Regions from separate parts of the Homo sapiens genome. Here regions 1 and 2 are each linked to region 3. The links come from fine-mapping of genetic effects on gene expression. A gene starts in region 3. Each other region holds a variant in brackets. All regions are shown on one strand. Distances are from middle to middle.

The links. PIP is the estimated chance that this variant, and not a neighbour inherited with it, causes the effect. A credible set is the group of variants that fine-mapping cannot tell apart.
Region 1: its variant is the best candidate, but not a certain one, in a credible set for the expression of ATP6V0E1 in whole blood (TOPMed, PIP 0.68).
Region 2: its variant is the best candidate, but not a certain one, in a credible set for the expression of ATP6V0E1 in testis (GTEx, PIP 0.63).

Annotation. Positions count from the first base shown.
Region 1 is chr5:173,041,057-173,045,295 of GRCh38, reverse strand. No RefSeq gene overlaps it. Among named protein-coding and RNA genes, the nearest start is that of CREBRF, 13 kb to the left of the region's middle. The variant C/T (reference allele first, on the strand shown) is at 2,166.
Region 2 is chr5:173,032,155-173,036,393 of GRCh38, reverse strand. ATP6V0E1 (ATPase H+ transporting V0 subunit e1) reads right to left here. Exons shown (of 4, transcript NM_003945.4): 4 at 949-1,995. Among named protein-coding and RNA genes, the nearest start is that of SNORA74B, 14 kb to the right of the region's middle. The variant C/T (reference allele first, on the strand shown) is at 2,393.
Region 3 is chr5:172,981,683-172,985,874 of GRCh38, reverse strand. ATP6V0E1 (ATPase H+ transporting V0 subunit e1) reads right to left here and starts at 2,104. Exons shown (of 4, transcript NM_003945.4): 1 at 1,911-2,104. The coding sequence starts at 2,014. RefSeq lists a silencer at 2,050-2,229 and an enhancer at 1,995-2,289.

The sequences.
Region 1 (4,239 bases), 59 kb before region 3:
AGAGAGGGGAGCTGGAATCCCAGGGATGGCAGGAAATTCATTCTGAGGACATTCAGAACCACAAGACCCTGCCCGTTCCCAGGTAGTAGGTTTAGGATTCTCCAAATGGCCTCTGGCCTCATTTTCAGAAAGCTATTGGCTTCTTAATGGAAGGTATTAGAAGAACCATGTGACCTTTTGGGGCTAGGAACAACCATAGGCACTGAAAGGTTGAAGGTGTGGCCAAGAAACTAAGGCTACAAGACCGTCATCGATGGGTAAAGTGAGGAATTTTACCTCAGAAAAATGGAGCCTCAGTGACAGCCCTGAACCCTAAAGTCGGACTCCCCTGGGTTTAAACCCCATTTCCTCTAATTAACACTGTTAAATAAACCATTATAGGAGGCCATTGTTTTGGAATAAGCTCCTGCATTAGGCCCCGACAGACCAGGCTAAAAATCAAAATGGAGGGCCGGGCACGGTGGCTGACGCCTGTAATCCCAGCACTTTGGGAGGCTGAGGCAGGCGGATCACCTGAGGTCAGGAGTTCGAGACCAGCCCCAACATGGCGAAACCCCGTCTCTACTCAAAATACAAAATTAGCCGGGCGTGGTGGTGCATGCCTGTAATCTCAGCTACTCAGGAGGCCGAGGCAGGAGAATTGCTTGAAACTGGGAGGCGGAGGTTGCAGTGAGCCGAGATTGCGCCATTGCACTCCAGCCTGGGCAACAAGAGCGAAACTCCATCTCAAAAAATAAAAATAAAAAATAAAAATGGAGTCAGCCATGTTAAAGTTCCAGATCACCAAACCTGAAGAGTTTTCTGACCTTGCAAGAAATCAAGAGAGACAGACAACAACCAATTTCCCAAGAAGACCAGTTCCAATCTTCAATCAGTATGATAAGGGAAGTTCCTCTGCCTTAATCCTTTTTTTTTTTTTGAGACAGAGTCTCGCTCTGTCACCCAGGCTGGAGTGCCGTGGCGCGATCTCTGCTCACTGCAAGCTCCACCTCCCGGGTTCACGCCATTCTTCTGCCTCAGCCTCCTGAGTAGCTGGGACTACAGGCGCCCACCATCACACCCGGCTAATTTTTTTATATTTTTAGTAGAGACGGGGTTTCATCGTGTTAACCAGGATGGTCTCGATCTCCTGACCTCGTGATCCACCCGCCTCGGCCTCCCAAAGTGCTGGGATTACAGGCGTGAGCCACCGCGCCCGGCTGCCTTAATCCTTAAACCAAAAAGGTATCCTGAAGTAAACCAATGTTACTAACCAGTGACATTCCTATTGTTCTGTCTAAAAGTAACTAATATGCTCTGTTCCTTCCTTCTGCTTTCTCCAGCCCCTCTCTGTGTGTATAAAGCCAAGCTCTTCTGCTCAGCTCTTTGGGACTTACTGTTTTATGGAATGAAGTGTTGCCTGATTCTAGAATTGCAAATAAAGCCAATTGAAATCTTTAAACTAGTTTGTTATAATTTGGTTTTTTGACAACAGCTTGGAACATTGGGCCTCAATTTCTTCATCTATAAAATGAAGATAATAAATGTATTTAATAGGTTTTTGTGAGGATTAAATGAGTTAAAATATGTGAAACATTAAGAATAATATCTGTGGTCTGGGTGTGGTGGCTCACGCCTGTAATCCTAGCACTTTGGGAGGCCAAGGCGGGTGGATCACTTGAGGTCAGGAGTTCGAGACCAGCTTGACCAACATGGTGAAACCCCATCTCTACTAAAAATACAAAAATTAGCTGGGCATGGTGGTGCATGCCTGTAATCTCAACTACCTGGGAGGCTGAGGCAGGAGAATCACTTGAACCCCAGAGGTGGAAGTTGCAGTGAGCCGCGATCACACCATTGCACTCCAGCCTGGGTGACAAGAGCAGAACTACATCTCAAAAAAAAAAAAAAAAAAAAGGCCAGGCACGGTGGCTCACACCTGTAATCCCAGCACTTTGGGGAGGCTGACGCATGTGGATCACCTGAGGTTAGGAGTTCGAGACCAGCTTGACCAGCATGGTGAAACTCCATCTCTACTAAAAATACAAAAAATTAGCCAGGCGTGGTGACGCACATCGTAATCCCAGCTACTCGGGAGGCTGAGACAGGAGAATTGCTTGAACCCAGGAGTCGGAGGTTGCAGTGAGCCAAGCTCGTGCCACTGCACTCCAGCCTGGGCAACAGAG[C/T]GAGACTCTGTCTCAAAAAAAAAAAAAAAGTTAACATCCGTATGTGGAACTGCTATGTGTTAGGTATTATTGTTAGCCACAGGACTGATAATAATGATGAAAAAGTAGGAAAAAAAAAAACAGCTGTAAGCGGCTCCTAGAATCTCAGAAATGGGCAGCTTGGCTGTCAGGTGAGTGAGGGCTGGTTGGAGTCCCTGTAAACATACCAGCTGAAGGGCAGCCAAGCTGTTGGAATGAGAGTAGGTTTGATGTACTGTTGATCTGTTTATCCAGCTATAAAAGAGGTACAATATGTGTCCCACTTACTTCCTAGGATAATGTAATGTAAAATACTTAATAAGCTGGGGGTGAGGGTGGTGCCGACAGCTATCCAAACCAGGGCCATTTACAATGGCTGCCCCTTACAGAGTCCTCCTCTTCCCTTGTCCACCCTTAAGAGTGGGTGCCCCTCAGGCCTGCAGCTTAGACAGCCTCTCCTCTCACTCTACACACATTCTTCCTGGCCCTTATCCACACCCACAGCTTCCATTATCTCTGCATTGGTGCCCACATTCTAACCTCCAGCCTGGTCCTTCTTAACCTCCAGGCCCAAATAACAATTGCCCACTGGGGGTGTCCCTGCATGGACACCTCAGGTCCCTGCAACTCTTTGTCCACAGCTGGACTCCACTGTGTCCCTAAGCTTGAAACCATCTTTGCAAAGATTATGATCGTGACAGAAATCCAGCATTGCTGACTCCATCTTGCTTCTAACCTCACCAGCTGACCATCTTTGCTCATTCCTGTGTATAGGGCAAGAAAACTATGGGAGGAATTTAGTTTATAGTTTAACTTTAAACAAAGATAACGAACCTCTTCATCACACAGGGACTAAACTGCCTTCATAAAACTAACAGATTAACCACAAGGTCAGAATTATGGTCCAGGAGTCATGTAGCTGGAGGTCACAAGATTTGTAACCCCCTCAATTGTTCCTATAGATAACGTCACTATCGTAGAACCTACGGCTGGTGTTTGAGGTATCTTTCAGACCTTGTATTTTGATGGACCAGCTGGCGCCACTAGGATGGGCAACCCATAACCCAGAAACTGACCCAACTGGTCTTGTGACCCCCGACCCAGGAACTGACTTAGTGCAAGAAGACAACTTCAACCCTTTATAATTTCATCCCCTACTCAGTCAGCACTACCCATTCCCTAGCCACCTGCCCACCCAGCTTTCCTTTAAAAACTGTAGCCTCAGAGGGCCAAGCACGGTGGCTCACGCCTGTAATCCCAGCACTTTGGGAGGCTGAGGTGGGTGGATCACGAGGTCAGGAGATCGAGACTATCCTGGCTAACACGGTGAAACCCCATCTCTACTAAAAATACAAAAAAATTAGCTGGGAGTGGTGGCGGGCGCCTGTAGTCCCAGCTACTTGGGAGGCTGAGGCAGGACAATGGTGTGAACCCGGGAGCAGTGAGCTGAGATCGCACCACTGCACTCCAGCCTGGGTGACAGAGCAAGACTCCGTCTCAAAAACAAAACAAAACAAAACAAAAAAACTCTAGCCTCAGCAGGGCGCAGTGGCTGACACCTGTAATCCCAGCACTTTGGGAGGCCAAGGTGGGCGGATCGCGAGGTCAAGAGATCAAGACCATCCTGGCCAACATGGTGAAACCCTGTCTCTACTAAAAGTACAAAAATTAGCTGTGTGTGGTGGTGCGCACCTGTAGTCTCAGCTACGCGGGAGGCTGAGGCAGGAGAATCGCTTGAACCCAGGAAGCAGCGGTTGCAGTGAGCTGAGATCGCACCATGCACTCCAGCCTGGTGACAGAGTGAGAATCTGTCTCAAAAATAAAATTAAAATAAATAAAATAAAATAACTCTAGCCTCTGAATTCTCGGGGAGGCAGATTTGAGAATGATTTCCAGTCCTTCTGCTTGGCTGGCATTTTGATTATTAAATTCTTTTTCGGCCGGGTGCTGTGGCTCACGCCTGTAATCCCAGCACTTTGGGAGGCCGAGGCAGGCAGATCACAAGGTCAGGAGATCGAGACCATCCTGGCTAATGGGGTGAAACCCCGTCTCTACT
Region 2 (4,239 bases), 50 kb before region 3:
TATGATTCACCAACATCCATCTCCGATGCCTAATCATGTTGTTAACAAACAGTTCTGCTATTAAGGGTGAGGTGACGAGAGAACATGTGCCTGGGTTTAGGTATTAATGGCACTGAACCTTCTCAAGAATTTAATAAATGAAACAACTAGGGCTCAAGGGTGAAGTGACTTCCTGAGCAAAGGGAATTTACCGAGTTTCCTCTCATAAAACCTGAGCTGATTTCGTCATTCCCACATTTCAACAATAGTATGATGGCAGGGCGCGGTGGCTCACACCTGTAATCCCAGCACTTTCGGAGACCAAGGTGGGCGGATCACGAGGTCAGGAGACCAGCCTGACCAACATGGTGAAACCCTGTCTCTACTAAAAATACAAAAATTAGTCGGGCGCGGTGGCAGGTGCCTGTAATCTCAGCTACTCAGGAGGCTGAGGCAGGAGAATTGCTTGAACCCGGGAGGCAGAGGTTGCAGTGAGCTGAGATCGCACCACTGCACTCCAGCCTGGGCGACAGAGTGAGACTCTGTCTCAAGAAAAAAAGAAAGAAAACATGGATCTTACTCCCCTGTCTAGCTCTGACCAACTGCATTAAGCTGGGCGAGAAATTCTCCCTGTCTGGGCTCAGCTTCCTTATCCATAAAATGATGGGGTTAGCCTATATCACCATAGCCCCCTTCAACTTCAAATCATCAATGTTTCATGTATTCCATGAAATTAGCTAATGTGGCCCTCCTGCTGGAAACGTAAAGCATGGAGTTGCCTAACAGACTGCGCAAAACAAAAGTAAAGAATGAAAAGAAACGAGAGCAGGAGAGTCACTTCAACTTGAAACTCACTTTGGTCATAAGAATAGCAAAGTAATGAGTTCAGACAGTTTGGGAGGAATAGAAAGTAGAAACTGCAAAACAGGAAATCCATTCTTGGCTGGCTGTCAAAAAGCCATGAGCTGGTGAAAATTTAGGTTCATTTTAATTTTTAATTTCTTAAAAGTAATAAAGCTCTCAAATTAGTGTATCGAGATGCCTGCTACTGAAATACAAAATTACTGTCTCCTGCCCCTGGCTTTTTAATCACTCTTGACTTCTTTAGTCCTATGTCTGAGGCTGTGATGGTTCCATCTCAGGAGCATTTGCTGCCTTGTTCTGCAGCTGGCAGGTAACCTTGAACTGCTCACCATGGTACCATCTTTAAGGACAATGCTCCAACACAACCTTATATTACAGTTCTATGTATACTAACCTTATCTCTCCAAATAGCTTGTGAACTTGCAGGGACTCCAAATTTACACATCTTTGATCCCTCCAGTGCCTTGGCTGCAGTAGGCACTCAAATAGTTACTGAACGATTAAGAAACGCACTTACCAGTCTTTTCAGGCATCTCAAGCTACATGGCAGGGTTTATATACTCAACCTAAGTTTAGACTACAAAATCATTTTTTAAAAAGGCATTATGTAGCGATAGAAAAGCTTATAAAAATGAACTTTACAAACACCGAGCCCAGATTTCCATAGAAAGGAGGAAAATATTTATTCCAAAAGATGGCAGAAAGAAGAAATTCATCCTGAAAGTATAGTTTGGTGCGATTCTGTTGAGATGGCTCTTCCCTCTGAACGTGCTCTCCTACTGACCACCCCACTGGAGTCTTGTTTGTCTTGCAGCAGTTTCTAAACACTTCACTGATTCCCACGTGAGAAGGCAGGAGCCATCTTCAAATCCACAGATTCCAAGGAGAGAGTAACGTATCTCTCAGAAGAACAGCATCTTCTATCTCAGAAGAGTACATAATCGTTTTGTGGAGTCGGCACAGTTCAGGTTATGGAGGCACGTAATTCACCAAAGTGCAAAAAAGGCAAAGGAAAACACGCTGCATTGTAGAATAAGGCATTCAAATGTGCTGTTAACGTTTAAGGCAGCTAATGGCCAAAACAGGCAAGTCAAGAAAAGTGGTCTGGTTTGGAGGTGATTTTGCATCTAGAAGGCATTCTCTTCTCGTGACCTGCAAAACAAAACCATTCTGGTAACTGGTCCTCATACATTCCTCAGGAAGGCAAAAAGTTAACATCGAGAAAGTTAACCAAGCCAACACTTTAAAATGCACAGATGCTCAACAAAATATGAAACACAGGATAATCAACTTGGTGCAAGTTTGGCCAGGTTTTGCAGGGCTGTGGCAAAAGGTCCAGTAACCAAGGACACTGCTGAAATGAGGAGCACAAGTAACACTCTATGTTACAGAAAGCAGGAAGAATGAAGCTGACTGAGATTGATTGTGCTGGAATCTAATGAATTCACCGCAGTTTCAAGAGTCTGTATTTTTCCCTTCCCTCTTATAGCATGGAGGGGAGGTTCCGCAGGCATGGCGAACTCTGCTCTGGGGCCAGGCTCCTGGGGAG[C/T]GGGCTCCTTGCATTGGTCTTGTACTGGAGGCTGCCCTGTAGCTTGCTCCCCGTTCTGGCTATCTCGAGTGTAGGTGACAAATGACACTTTTCTTTTTCTAGCAGCTTAAATTCAACACCATCTTTTTTTTTGTTTTGTTTTATTTTTGTTTTTTTCGGACACAGGGTCTTGCTCTGCCATCCAGGCTGGAGTGCAGTGGCGTGATCTCGGCTCACTGCAGTCTCAATCTCCTGAGCCCAAATGATCCTCCCATCTCAGCCTCCCAAGTAGCTGGAACTACAGGTGCACGCCAACACATTCGGCTAATTTTTATATTTTTTTGTAGAGACAGGGTTTCACCATGCTGCCCAGGTTGGGCTCTAACTCCTGGGCTCAAGCGTTGTGCCCATCCTCGCCTCCCAAAGTGCTGGGATTACAGGCATGAGCCATCATGCCCTAAACAGACTATATTTACAATGTACTAGGAAAACAACATCAGGCCAAGGAGTGGTAATTACCAGAGCTACTTGTTTCTTGTAGTAGTGTGAAAGCCTCATAATATCTTTCACTTAATCTAGGGATAATTTTCTGTTCTCTTCCTTAGGCCAGCAGAACAGCCTCTTTGTACAAGTATCAGTACCAGGCAGATTATAAATTTAGGCCAGGCGTGGTGGCTCACACCTGTAATCCCAGCACTTTGGGACGCCAAGGCGGGAAGATCACCTGAGGCCAGCCTGGGCAACATAGCGAGACTCTCTACAGCACGATGACACACACCAGTAGTCCCAGCTACTCCAGAAGCTGAGGTGGGAGGATCACTAGAGCTCAGGAGTTTGAGGTTACAGTGAGCTATGATCATGCCATTCTGCACCCCAGCCTAGGTGACAGAGCCTGACCCTGTCTCTAATCAATAAATAATATTTTTTTCAGACAGTCTCGCTCTCTCACCTGCCCTGGAGTGTAGTGGCCACAAACACAGCTCACTGCAGCCTCGACCTTCTGGACTCAAGCAATCTTCCTGCCTCAGCCTCCCAAGTAGCTGGGACTATAGGCCCACGCCATCATGCCCAGCTAATTTTTAAATTTTTCATAGAAATGGGGTCTTGCTATATTGCCCAGGCTGGTCTCAAACTCCTGGGCTCAGGTTTCCTCTTGCCTTGGCTTCCCAAAGTTCTGGGATTACAGGCATGAGCCATCACACCCAGCCAATAAAATAAATTTTATCTGAGAATACTGAAGTAGTGAATACATATGGTTTGTCTGTTAATTTTCCATGAAGAGCACACTGATTAGACTTCTTCATAGTACAGGCATTTTGTGACAAAGAAACAATCAAAAAAGGGAAAAATAAGCCTTCACTTTTGAAAAACCATATACAAATGGGGGATAGTTTTCACTCAAGATCAATGATACCAGTTTAAAATAAATGTAGGCCGGGCACAGTGGCTCACGTCTGTAATCCCAGCACTTTGGGAGGCCGAGGCAGGTGGATCACTTGAGGTCAGGAGTTCGAGATCAGCCTGGCCAGCATGGTAAAACCCCATCTCTACTAAAAATACAAAAAAATTAGCCAGCTGTAGTGGTGCATGCCTGTAGTCCCAGCTACCTGGGAGGCTAAGGCAAGGAGAATGGCTTGAACCCAGGAGGCGGAGGTTGCAGTGAGCTGAGATCACACCATTGGACTCCAGCCTGGGTGACAGAGCAAGACCCCATCTCAAAATAAATAAATAAATAAATAAATAAATAAATAAATAAATAAATAAATAAATAAAATAAAATAAAAGTAAATGTGCATTATGTTACATGGCAAAGGCATGCGGTTTGATTTTGGAATAAATTTTTATTTTTATTTATTTATTTATTCTTG
Region 3 (4,192 bases):
CTCTTTGTTCACACAAAAGCCCAACTAACACATTTCTCAAACATAGTCCTTTTGTTAAGTGACACATGTCTATATATCACTAGCTGGTCAAATACCTGAATCATGACACTCTCTAGGGCTAAGTGGAAACAGGATGGGTTTCATTACCCTGGATAATGGCAATGACATCCCAAGGAAGGGGAGAGAATGGTCTTTAAGAAAGGAATTGTCAGTGCTATTAGTACATTAATAAATGCTTCTTTGAGTACAAAGGCCATAAAGGCAGACAGTAGGGTAATGAAACAGTTGAAGATATAAACACAACAAAGAAGCACTTTGTTGTTCGCTAACTCCAGTAGGAAAAACAAGTCTAATTAACTTTGGTAAATACAATTGCTTTAATAATGCCAGAATTCTGACTCTGTCCATCAACCTCTATAGGTAGGAGAGATGACCCCATATAACTGGTGTTACCAGGGAGGAGGAACTTGATACTTAAAAATGATAAAAATTCATCTACCATGTATCTTTTAAAAAAAAATAATTTTAGACTAATAAAGCAAATGTATCCCAGGGAGCAAAAGGGGTTCAGGTCACAAAATATTAGGGAAGTAGTAAAAATCTTTTTCTTTCTTTTTTTTTTTTTTTTTTGAGACGGAGTCTCGCTCTGTCGCCCAGGCTGGAGTGCAGTGGCGCGATCTCGGCTCACTGCAAGCTCTGCCTCCTGGGTTCACGCCATTCTCCTGCCTCAGCCTCCCGAGTAGCTGGGATTACAGGCGCCCGCCACCACGCCCGGCTAATTTTTTGTGTTTTTAGTAGAGACGGGTTTCACCGTGTTAGCCAGGATGGTCTCGATCTCCTGACCTCGTGATCCGCCCGCCTTGGCCTCCCAAAGTGCTGGGATTACAGGCGTGAGCCACGGCACCTGGCCAAAAATCTTTTTCTTTTAATAAAGACAATAGAACTATTCACTCAACAGGTATTTATTGGGTGCCTCCTGTGCATACAAGGTACTATGAAAACCAGGCACTATGAAGCCACCAATTAGGTTCAAGAATAAAGCAAGAGATGGTGTTTCTGACAAACTGACTTCAGTCGAAGTTTCACCTCTCATCATCTTGAACTGAGAAAAAAATGACTGAGAAGCAAAAGAGGAACCAGGAAGAGGGTGTTCCAAGGCTCCTTTGAAGATTAAGCCTCTATTTTATACTACAGTTAAAAAGTTTAATTCCAAAAGAGACAAAGCTCTAACCAACAAAGAAGTCTGGAAAAACAAAATCTTTCTTAGCCAATCATTCTAAGCACTTCTTACACTCACATACAAGAGCCGGAGCGCCCTCCAAAAGGCATGACGCAGGGGTTTCTCAACAATACCTCCTGCTCTTTGGTAATTAATCTCGCTTTAGATCAGGCCCCAACCGCCTCCTGGCGCCCACTAGATGCAAGGCCTGGGCTCAATGTTGTCGAAGGAGCTTGTTCTGTACGCAACCGCGACAGCATGGGAGGCAGAGAAGCCAATTTCTGTTTTATTTATTTGATCCTTAAGTTCAGGCAAACGAGGCCTCATGTGGGTGGAAGGCAGGGCTAAAGGGGGACAGTCGACTAGGGACAAACCCCAGTTTCTCCCAGATTCGGCCTGCTCATTTCCGACTGCACCTCCCCACACAGGACTATGATGAGAAAAAATTCCCCTGAAACTCGTTTCCAAGGGGGGTCCACCAAAGGTCACCCTCCACTCGCTCAGGCCGGAGGACACTGAAGCTGCTGCGAAAAGGAACACAAGGAGTTCCGCCGGGTCGGGGGCCTGACTCTGCAGCGCGGGGGGCGCCCATGCAACGTTCTCTGACCCGTGTGGGGGTCGTGCCTTTCCCCGCCCCGGCCTGCTAGCTCCTCACCGCCCGTTCCTCCCAAGGCGGGCCTCACGCACTTACCCCCGGTTAGGACCCTTAGGGATGAACCAAGGCACCAAGAAGCCGACGAAGCCCCAGAACACGCTCATCACAATGAGAGGCACAGTGAGGCCGTGATACGCCATGGTCGCCGCCTGAGCGCCAACCCCTACCCCGTCGCCTCACTCGGATCCCACCAGGAAGTGTCAATAGCTGACCGCGTGACCAGCGTGTGCAAGCCCCGCCTCCCGCGCCCCCACGTGACCCGCGCGCCGGCCTCCGCCCCTCGGGGAGCCCAGAGGCAGAGCCCCGCCTTCGCCTGGCTGTCTCCTGGCTGCAGCTCCTTGGAGGCATGTCGCTCACCCCAGAGCTAGGGATTCGGTCACCCGGGGCTCAGCAAAGTGTTCTGATGAGAACTTGGCCCTTTTAGACAAAGAGTGTAGTTATCTACAGCCTCATCTACTTATGCAACAGACATAGAGAACTTAACAATAGTTGTCCCTTACTATTCTGAATTCCCGTGTGCCTGGCACTGGGCCATGATCTTTAAGTTCATGAGCCCCAGGCCGGGTGCGGTGGCTCACGCCTGTAATCCCAGCACTTTGGCAGGCTGAGGCAGGCGGATCACTTGAGGTCAGGAGTTCGAGACCAGCCTGGCCAACATGGTGTAACCCTGTCTCTACTAAAAATACAAAAATTAGCTGGGTGTGGTGGTGCGCGCCTGTGGTCCCAGCTACTCAGGAGGCTGAGGCAGGAGAATCAATTGAACTCGGGAGGTGGAGGTTGCAGTGAGCCGAGATTGCGCCACTGCACTCCAGCCTGGGCAACAGAACAACACTCTGTCTCAAAAGAAAAAAAAAAAAGTGCATGAGCCCGTGTTGAACTCCTCACTTCAGCCTATGAGGTAATTGTAATTATTATCCCCACTTTGCAGTTGAAGAAACTGAGGCCCAGGGAAGAGGATAAGGATCTTGCCCAAAGTCACATAGTAAGTGGCAGGGCCAGGATTCAACCCCTGATTATCTGATTTTCAAGGCCAGAGCTCTTAACTAGCGCACCACTATTTATCTTGTGTGCTGTGCCAGGCTCTGGAGTTACAGAAGTCAATCAGGCACCCCTGAGGGAGTTCACATTCTGGGGAGCAGATGACCTTGCAAACAGGCGACTCAATGCAGTGTGAAAGTAAGTGGACGACCCTGCAAGGCTTTCTACCCAACTCGTCCTTGCTGAGCCTTGAAAGACAAGTAGAAATTAGCCAGAATGGTAAGAAGAAAAACAGGCCAGGCATGGTGGCTCACACCTGTAATCCCAGCACTTTGGGAGGCCGAGGCGGGCAGATCACCTGAGGTCAGTAGTTCAAGACTAGCCTGGGCAACATGGTGAAATCCCATCTCTACTAAAAATACAAAAATTGGCCAGGTATGCACCTGTAGTCCCAGCCACTCAGGAGGCTGAGGAACAAGAACCGCTTGAATCCCTGGGAGGCAGAGGTTATAATGAGCTGAGATCGCACCACTGCACTCCAGCCTTGGCGACAGAGTGAAACTCTGCCTCAAAAAAAAAAAAAAAAAGAAAGAAAGAAAAAGAAAGGTAAAACAGTTTTGTTTGTTTGTTTGTTTTTTGAGACAGGGCCTTGCTCTGTCACCCAGGCTGGAGTGCAGTGGTGCTCCATAGCTCACTGCTGCCTGGAACTCCCGGGCTCAAGCCATCCTTCTGCCTCAGCCTCCTGAGGAGCTGGGACTACAGGTGTGCACCACCACACCAGCTAATTTTTAAAATGTTTTGTAGAGACAGAGCCTCGCTATGTTGCCCCGGTGGGTCTTAAACTCCTGGCCTGAAGGGATCCTCCACCTCAGCCTCCCAAAGTGCCGGGATTACTGGCATAAGCCACCGTGCTGAGCTGATAAACAGGGCTTAGAACGCTTGCTGAGAATTTTCACATATGTTAGTTATAGTATGCGCCAAGCTTGGAATAGACAAGGAAGCCAGTTCTCAGAGAGGTTGAGGAGCTTGATGATAAAGCTTACAGGTGAAAGCAAGATAGAAAGCAGGTCTTTAAATGCAATGTGCTTTACCAGGGACCATGGTTTCCTTGCAGTAGCCACATTGCATTAACTCCTGATTTCTTTCATCAAGTAGAATGGATTCCTGTATTAAACGGGAAACTGGACCAATAATCTTCAACATCTGTACCAACTTTTCGGACATGATTCTAAGCCTTTAACCTGATCAGCAATGTAGAAAACTAGTTTGTCTCCTTTGTGCTCATAATGCTTCCCCAAAACTTAGCCCCAGCAGAAATCCTATGGTCCTTAAGTTCTAGC